Linked DNA regions of Homo sapiens. The protein of the gene in region 2 purifies or fractionates together with the protein of the main gene of each other region. This does not show direct contact. Each region holds a gene or a part of one and is shown on either strand. Other genes may lie near its edges.

The links.
Region 1: the proteins of EBF2 (region 2) and SPRR3 purify together in Homo sapiens (affinity purification with mass spectrometry; one large-scale study listed by BioGRID and IntAct). This does not show direct contact.

Annotation. Positions count from the first base shown.
Region 1 is NC_000001.11:153,000,436-153,004,358, forward strand, and holds SPRR3 (small proline-rich protein 3), read left to right. Parts: upstream 1-1,313; 5' UTR 1,314-1,358; intron 1,359-2,167; exon of another isoform or gene 2,168-2,251; intron 2,252-2,566; 5' UTR 2,567-2,585; coding exon 2,586-3,095; 3' UTR 3,096-3,421; downstream 3,422-3,923. UniProt on the Homo sapiens protein: Cross-linked envelope protein of keratinocytes.
Region 2 is NC_000008.11:25,860,404-25,863,917, reverse strand, and holds part of EBF2 (transcription factor COE2), read left to right. Parts: intron 1-1,120; coding exon 1,121-1,209; intron 1,210-2,543; coding exon 2,544-2,609; intron 2,610-2,691; coding exon 2,692-2,869; intron 2,870-3,514. UniProt on the Homo sapiens protein: Transcription factor that, in osteoblasts, activates the decoy receptor for RANKL, TNFRSF11B, which in turn regulates osteoclast differentiation. Acts in synergy with the Wnt-responsive LEF1/CTNNB1 pathway.

The sequences.
Region 1 (3,923 bases), on a different chromosome or scaffold from region 2:
AGAGGGAAGGACATGGGTGTGGAAGGGAGGGTAAGCCTCTTCTCCTTCATGAATTATCAGCTCACACCTCTTCTCAGCTCACACCAGGAGGCCTGGCACAGGACAGTGAATCATGCCCAAGAAACTGCCTTGTGGCTTCCTGCCTTCCTCCCTCCCTCCCTATCTTTCCTCTTTTCTTTTCTCTTTTCTTTTCTTTTCCTTTCCTTCCCCTCCCCTTCCTTTCTTCCTTCCTTTCTTTCTTTCTTTCCTTCTCTCTCTCTCTCTTTCTTTCTTTCTTTCCTTTCTTCTTTATCTATCTCTGTTTCTTTCTCACTTCCTTTCTCCCTTCCATGAACCTACAGCTCTATTCAGGAGAACAATGACTGTCCATTGACTTAACACCCATGATAACCAGGCACTGTGTGACGCTGAAGTAGAACAAGGGGCTTTCAGAACCTGGTGGAAGGAGCTGGGCATCAGGTTCAAGGGAGTAACACAGTCGTGGAACATTGGGAAAGGAGGAGCTATTCACATGCCTGAGATGTAAGGATGTCTGGATTTTCCAAGGGCCGCGTCTAGTAAGAGAGTGTGTATTGAGGGCAACTCTGAGTTAGTGACTTGAGGTTCATCCTGTAGTGATCAGAGGAAATGGCTGGTGTATGAACCTAGGGAATCAGCACGCTCCTCTTCCTATGTCACTCCTGGAGAAGAAAGATACCACAAGAGGCAGGGTCTTCAGGGCTGAGCCACAATGTCACACAGATCCAGTCAATCCTGCCTGTCCATCTCAATGACATCTACTATCCCTGATCAACACGGCACCTTAAGGCGCCCTTCACAGTGAAAGCAACTTATTTCCAAAGCAGGCATTTTGCCTTCCATTGCTCCTCCCAGGTCCAAATCCAGTAAGAGACTGAAAATCAGATGATTCACTTATTCTGCACCATCCCCATGGCCTCGCAGAACCAGAAATGCCTATTGTTATTTCCATGTCCACTTCAACCATGAGGAAGCCCAATAGGACTAATCTGGCTAAAGATTAGGGCCCAGGCCAAGAGGCCTGGCTCGTTCTAGTCCTAGGAGCATGGTACTTCCTCCTAATTTAATCCATTGCCATTCAAGAAGACCTTTGCCCACAGCAACCACACCACAAAGGGTGGACAGTGAGTCAGGCCCAGGTGACATCACTGTCAGAGCTTAAGTGACAAAAAATGTTAAGCCAGAGATACTTATCACAAAAGCTGGAATGAAGTTAGAGCAGTCTTTTAAAAAATCCAATTTTCTTAAGGCAGGGCTCATTTTCTATATAAATACCAGCTAACAAGAGACTCTTCACCAGATCCCAGAGGCTGAACACCTCGACCTTCTCTGCACAGCAGGTGAGTCTCCGCATTAGGAACACCTTAATATTCTCCAATAGTTTCTTTATTTTGATTGAGATCTCTTTGCTATGCAATGAATATATTTATTTTAAATGCAATAACGACTTTTGTTTAAGGTGACCTTATACATATTTTGACTTTCCACTCAGATTACAGGTGTGGAACTTAGGATCAGAAAAGGGGAGTGATTTCTGTAAAGGCTTGCTAAGTTAGCAAGACAATATACCCACTTCAAGAGCACTCTCCTGTCAACATGTATTGAAAATTTTTAATATAGAAGGCACTACATTGGCAATTTTGATGATCAAAAGATAAGTTTTTCTTTATTGCATGAATGTATAATCCATTAGAAAACATATACTTGACTAAAATTTGCAAACATACAGCATGGGGAGTGATTAGCAGAGAGGGAAAGCAAGTATCATGCTGTGGCAAAACGAGGAAGGTGAGAGCATCAGGAAGGACAGCCATGAGAGGTGGGCATGTGTGGGGAGGCAGCGATGATGTGGAGAGCCTGCCAGAGAGCATGTGCAGCAGGCACAGTGTGAACAGAGGCTCCCAGGTGGATTGTGGGAGCCTTAGGGGGAAGTTTAGATAAGAGTTCTCCTGGGAGAACTATCGCACTCTATAAGGAGGACATGAGTGAGTAGATTCTAGACTGCTGACCTTAAAATCTTTCCAACTTATGGAAAAACTGAGGTGTCACATCAATCTTCAGCCAATGACACACAGCCAAGAGTGGTATTAAAAGTGATTTAATCAGGGAAGAGCAAGAAACATGCATTTCTTTTCACTCAATTCCTCAGATGATCCCTGAGCAGCTGAAGACCAGAAAAGCCACTAAGACTTTCTGCTTAATTCAGGAGCTTAGAGGATTCTTCAAAGAGTGTGTAAGCGAAAGCTTCAGAGTATATATTTGCATATTTGTATGTGTTTTCATGTTGTACGTAGGTTTTTAGATGTACCAGGAAGAAAAGAAGCATAAAGAAAGGCTCCATTTACACGATGTGGAAGAAATCAACTTTACCTTATTCTCTGGAAGATAAGTGGGGATCACCAAAGCATCCCATGATCTCAAATTCAGGGAAAAAGAAAGAAAAGAGAGGCTCTCAGTTCTGAAGGAGAATGAAATGACAGATATTTGTCATTAAACTGGGCTTCATTCCTACTTAATCAAAGCACTGAATTAGCTGTTTTGTCTCTAGGTCCAGCATCCTTTGAAGCATGAGTTCTTACCAGCAGAAGCAGACCTTTACCCCACCACCTCAGCTTCAACAGCAGCAGGTGAAACAACCCAGCCAGCCTCCACCTCAGGAAATATTTGTTCCCACAACCAAGGAGCCATGCCACTCAAAGGTTCCACAACCTGGAAACACAAAGATTCCAGAGCCAGGCTGTACCAAGGTCCCTGAGCCAGGCTGTACCAAGGTCCCTGAGCCAGGCTGTACCAAGGTCCCTGAGCCAGGTTGTACCAAGGTCCCTGAGCCAGGCTGTACCAAGGTCCCTGAGCCAGGTTGTACCAAGGTCCCTGAGCCAGGCTACACCAAGGTCCCTGAACCAGGCAGCATCAAGGTCCCTGACCAAGGCTTCATCAAGTTTCCTGAGCCAGGTGCCATCAAAGTTCCTGAGCAAGGATACACCAAAGTTCCTGTGCCAGGCTACACAAAGCTACCAGAGCCATGTCCTTCAACGGTCACTCCAGGCCCAGCTCAGCAGAAGACCAAGCAGAAGTAATTTGGTGCACAGACAAGCCCTTGAGAAGCCAACCACCAGATGCTGGACACCCTCTTCCCATCTGTTTCTGTGTCTTAATTGTCTGTAGACCTTGTAATCAGCACATTGTCACCCCAAGCCATAGTCTCTCTCTTATTTGTATCCTAAAAATACGTACTATAAAGCTTTTGTTCACACACACTCTGAAGAATCCTGTAAGCCCCTGAATTAAGCAGAAAGTCTTCATGGCTTTTCTGGTCTTCGGCTGCTCAGGGTTCATCTGAAGATTCGAATGAAAAGAAATGCATGTTTCCTGCTCTTCCCTCATTAAATTGCTTTTAATTCCAGTCTTGGCTGTGTGTGTCATTGGCAGAATCTTCCTCCTTCCTTGTTTCCCCATTGTGAGTCAGGACCTATAGACAGAGAGGAGTTGATGTAGAAGTCATCTATTTAACCCCAGTACTGTTTGTTTCTATGGGTGTATGGGGTTACAGTTGAGGTGTTCCTGGAATGGCAATGGGCCTGGTGTGATGTTGAATAGAAGTTGTCACTTTGGGCAGCCACAGGCTCTCCTCTTGCACTGGACTGAGTCATGCCTGACTCCAAGCCACCTGTTCCAAGACACCTCTGATCCTCAGTATCCTGACAACAAATCTCCTGTTTGTTCCAAGAAAACTTTACTCCTACATATTTTGACTGGACAGTCTATTTTTCTTCATTTGTTTTACCTTCTAGATACCCCACCACACACATACACACACACACACACGCACACACACACACAGAGTCATTCACAAAGAGAAACATTCATTTTAAATAGCCACACAGTCACATAATCATTCACACAAG
Region 2 (3,514 bases):
AAGTGGATGAAAAGTAGGTTATGTAACAGTGTGAACGGTATGTCTCTGAATAATTTTAAGTATGTGTATAGGTTTCAATCTGGAAAGACATATGCAAAAAATGTTAATCCAGCTCATGTCTTAAGTGGGTTTATGGTAATTTTTTACTTCTATATTTAATGTTTGTAATAGTTTTTTACAAGAGGCATTGTTATGATAGAATAATAGCAACATATATATAAAAAATAAGATTAAAGAGGAAATAGACATTACTGTGTTTATTGCTGCATAACAGCAGTGCAGGTGATTATTTCATTCTTTGTATCTTTTTCTTTAATCATGTATTAATTTTAAAACCATGACATTTAAACAAGAAACTTTTAAAGAATAAATGAAAGGGAAGAAGGAGAAAGAATAAAAGCAGCATGCAGAAAACTCTTTAGAATAGTGGAAATGCTAAAGTATGCCATTCATTAATTCACTCATTCACTCACTCGTTTTATAATTACTGACACTAAGTGCCTTCTATGTGCCAGGCCCTGTCTTAACGGGAACATAGTGGTGAAATAAAATTTGTAGTATTCGTGGGGTGGGGGGCTGATAGTTACCAGACGTGGGTGTAATTAAATATAATTGAAAATTGTGGAAGCGTATTATGCATAAAGTGGGTTTTATGAGAATAAGCTCATAGAAGGTTTATATATGTATAAATATACATAAGAGACTGGTTAAGAAAAATATTTAGAAGAATATTTCATAGATATTTAGAAGAATAGACAGTGCAGTCCTACTTAAGAAAGAGATAAGAGAAAGGAAAATAATATAAAAGTAGTTTATTATCTTCATAAGAAATTGAGATATGGTTGCTTAATTTTTTATTTGATAGCAGAGAAGTTTATGTATACTTAAAGCAGAAATGATAATTATAATCTGAAATTTTGAAATGTTATTCTAATAGGAAACTATAAAAGTACTATAAATTCCAAATTTATATGTGAATTAACCAATGTCGATAGCAAAAACCCTAACTGATTACATCCATTATGCATCCAGAACCTTCTTATTACCTGTGGAAGAATTAATTAGAAGGTTTGCTTTATAGCCAGGATACCAACTCAGAAAGAGGACTTTTCTCTTTCAGCATTAAATGAACCCACCATAGACTATGGCTTCCAGAGACTGCAGAAGGTCATCCCTAGGCATCCTGGAGATCCTGAGAGATTAGCTAAGGTAATGTGCTTTGGAAATTGACATGTGAAGCCATTTGTGTAGAATTTCAGGAAACTTAGACAAATGCAGGCATTTACATCCCATTAAAATTAATTAGGCCTTGAAATTTGGCTAAGCTTTAGATACGAGATGCACATAAAATATCTGCTATGAAATATATTATGGTCTTATTTATTAATCTCTGAGGAAATATGAACATTTGAGCTGATTAAACAGATACACGACAGGAGTATTCAGTTTAAAAAACATGGCCAACTTTATGAAAATAAATAACTGCATAATTGGTTAAAAGTATAAGCTTCCACTCCTTTGTATTTAAATGTTTCTATTTAACCATAATTGCAAGGACTCATTAATCCACAATTAGTATTAATTATTGAGGGCCTACTATGTACGTAGGTATCTAATGAGGAGAAAAATGCTTCTGTATAAAATTTCTATGAAATACATCACTTTCAAGTGAACTTCCTTATGAAAATTACTTTATGAATTTGGCCCATGTTGTTAGCTTTCTTTAAAAAGTACATCAATTTATTAGTTGTCATTCAGCTGATGAGAAACTATTAAATTTTCACATTTATATTTGCACTTTAAACACACAAATTATAAAATGCCATATTCTCTTTTGCATACTGTGAATAAAATTTATGCACCAGAGTTGCTTCTACATCACACCTTTATTTTCCTCCTGGAAAAATCCCTAGCCCCACCATTAAATTAGATGATATCTGGAAAGTAGGTTAATAGCAATTTAAAAGGCTGTGTAAAACAGGAGGTGGAAAAGGCAAAATGAGAGGAAAGGGATTCGTGATTACTAATTCTCTGTGGTTAAAGTGTACAGGGGGAAATATTATTGAAAGAATTCATCTTTATTAGAATAAAATTTTGCAGCAGACGTTGCCAAGATAATTTCAGTACTCTGGACAACTCCTTGGCAAGCAGCTAAACTCAAATCCATCAATCATTTTAAGAATATTTGGTTAATTAGAGAACCAGATTTTTAAAACAGAATGGGCTGAAAGTAGCATTTAATAGAACTTCCATGACCTTAATAATTTTAATAAACTATACTCTCAATTGGGTTGTTTTTTGTTTTGGTAACACAATCATTTATAGAGCCATTTTATAGAGGTGAATTTCAGATAGATACGTATTTACAGAGAGATGTACATGTACAATTGTATTCTACCTGTCAAACCAAATATAGGACCTCTTGGCTAATTACTTACATTTTGGGAGGGATGTGTGGATTTCTCATTTTTGCCTATAATTTTCTTTTGTTTGCCATCTTGGATTTTGCCTTTGACAATATCCCATCCTCGCTTATTTTCCAGGAGATGCTGTTGAAAAGAGCTGCAGATCTAGTGGAAGCTCTTTATGGCACACCACACAATAACCAGGTGAGATACTGACATCCTATCCTTTATTGAGTTTTGCACTTTATGCTGGATAGAATGCTCACATTAACCTGTTGTTTTGTAGGACATCATTTTGAAGCGAGCCGCAGACATTGCTGAAGCTCTCTACAGCGTCCCCAGGAATCCCAGCCAGCTTCCAGCCCTCTCTAGCTCCCCAGCGCACAGTGGCATGATGGGAATCAACTCCTATGGCAGCCAGCTTGGGGTCAGCATCTCAGAGTCAACACAAGGAAATAATCAAGGTACCACCTTTCTTAGAGTCAAAATCCAAATATGTCTAATTTAAAAAGTTCTGCTGGAGTGGACAGAGTCAGAGGTTGGGTCATAATGGTCCAACAGAGTGTGTCCACAGATAGGCAATACAATCATAGATTGGGTTATTTCAAGATTATAGATGGTACTTTATTAGAGTTTGAGCTTCTTAGGTACCAGGTAGAATGTCTGGAAATATTTAAGGGGAAGATTGAGTATTACTACCAGGTTTGGTGGCTCACACCTGTAATCCCTGCACTTTGGGAGGCTGAGGCAGGTAGATTGCTTGAGCCCTGGAGTTTGAGACCAGCCTGGGCAACATGGTGAAAACCCATCTCTATAAAAAAATAGCCAGGTGTGGTGGGCAGATGTAGTCCCAACTACTTGGGAGGCTGAGGTGGGAGGATCACATGAGCCTGGGAAGTCGAGGCTGCAGTGAGCAGTGGGGTGCGCTGGCACACTGCAAATGAGCCGAGGCTGCCTGTGCAGTGTGACAGTGCACTCCAGCCTGGGCAACAGAGCGAGAACCTGTCTCAAAAAAAAAAAAAAAAGGATTGGGTATTATCAATTTAGAAGGGTTTGGGCTTATAGAAAATAGGTTTACAGGTATTAATTTAAAAGAAATTTATGCTTCT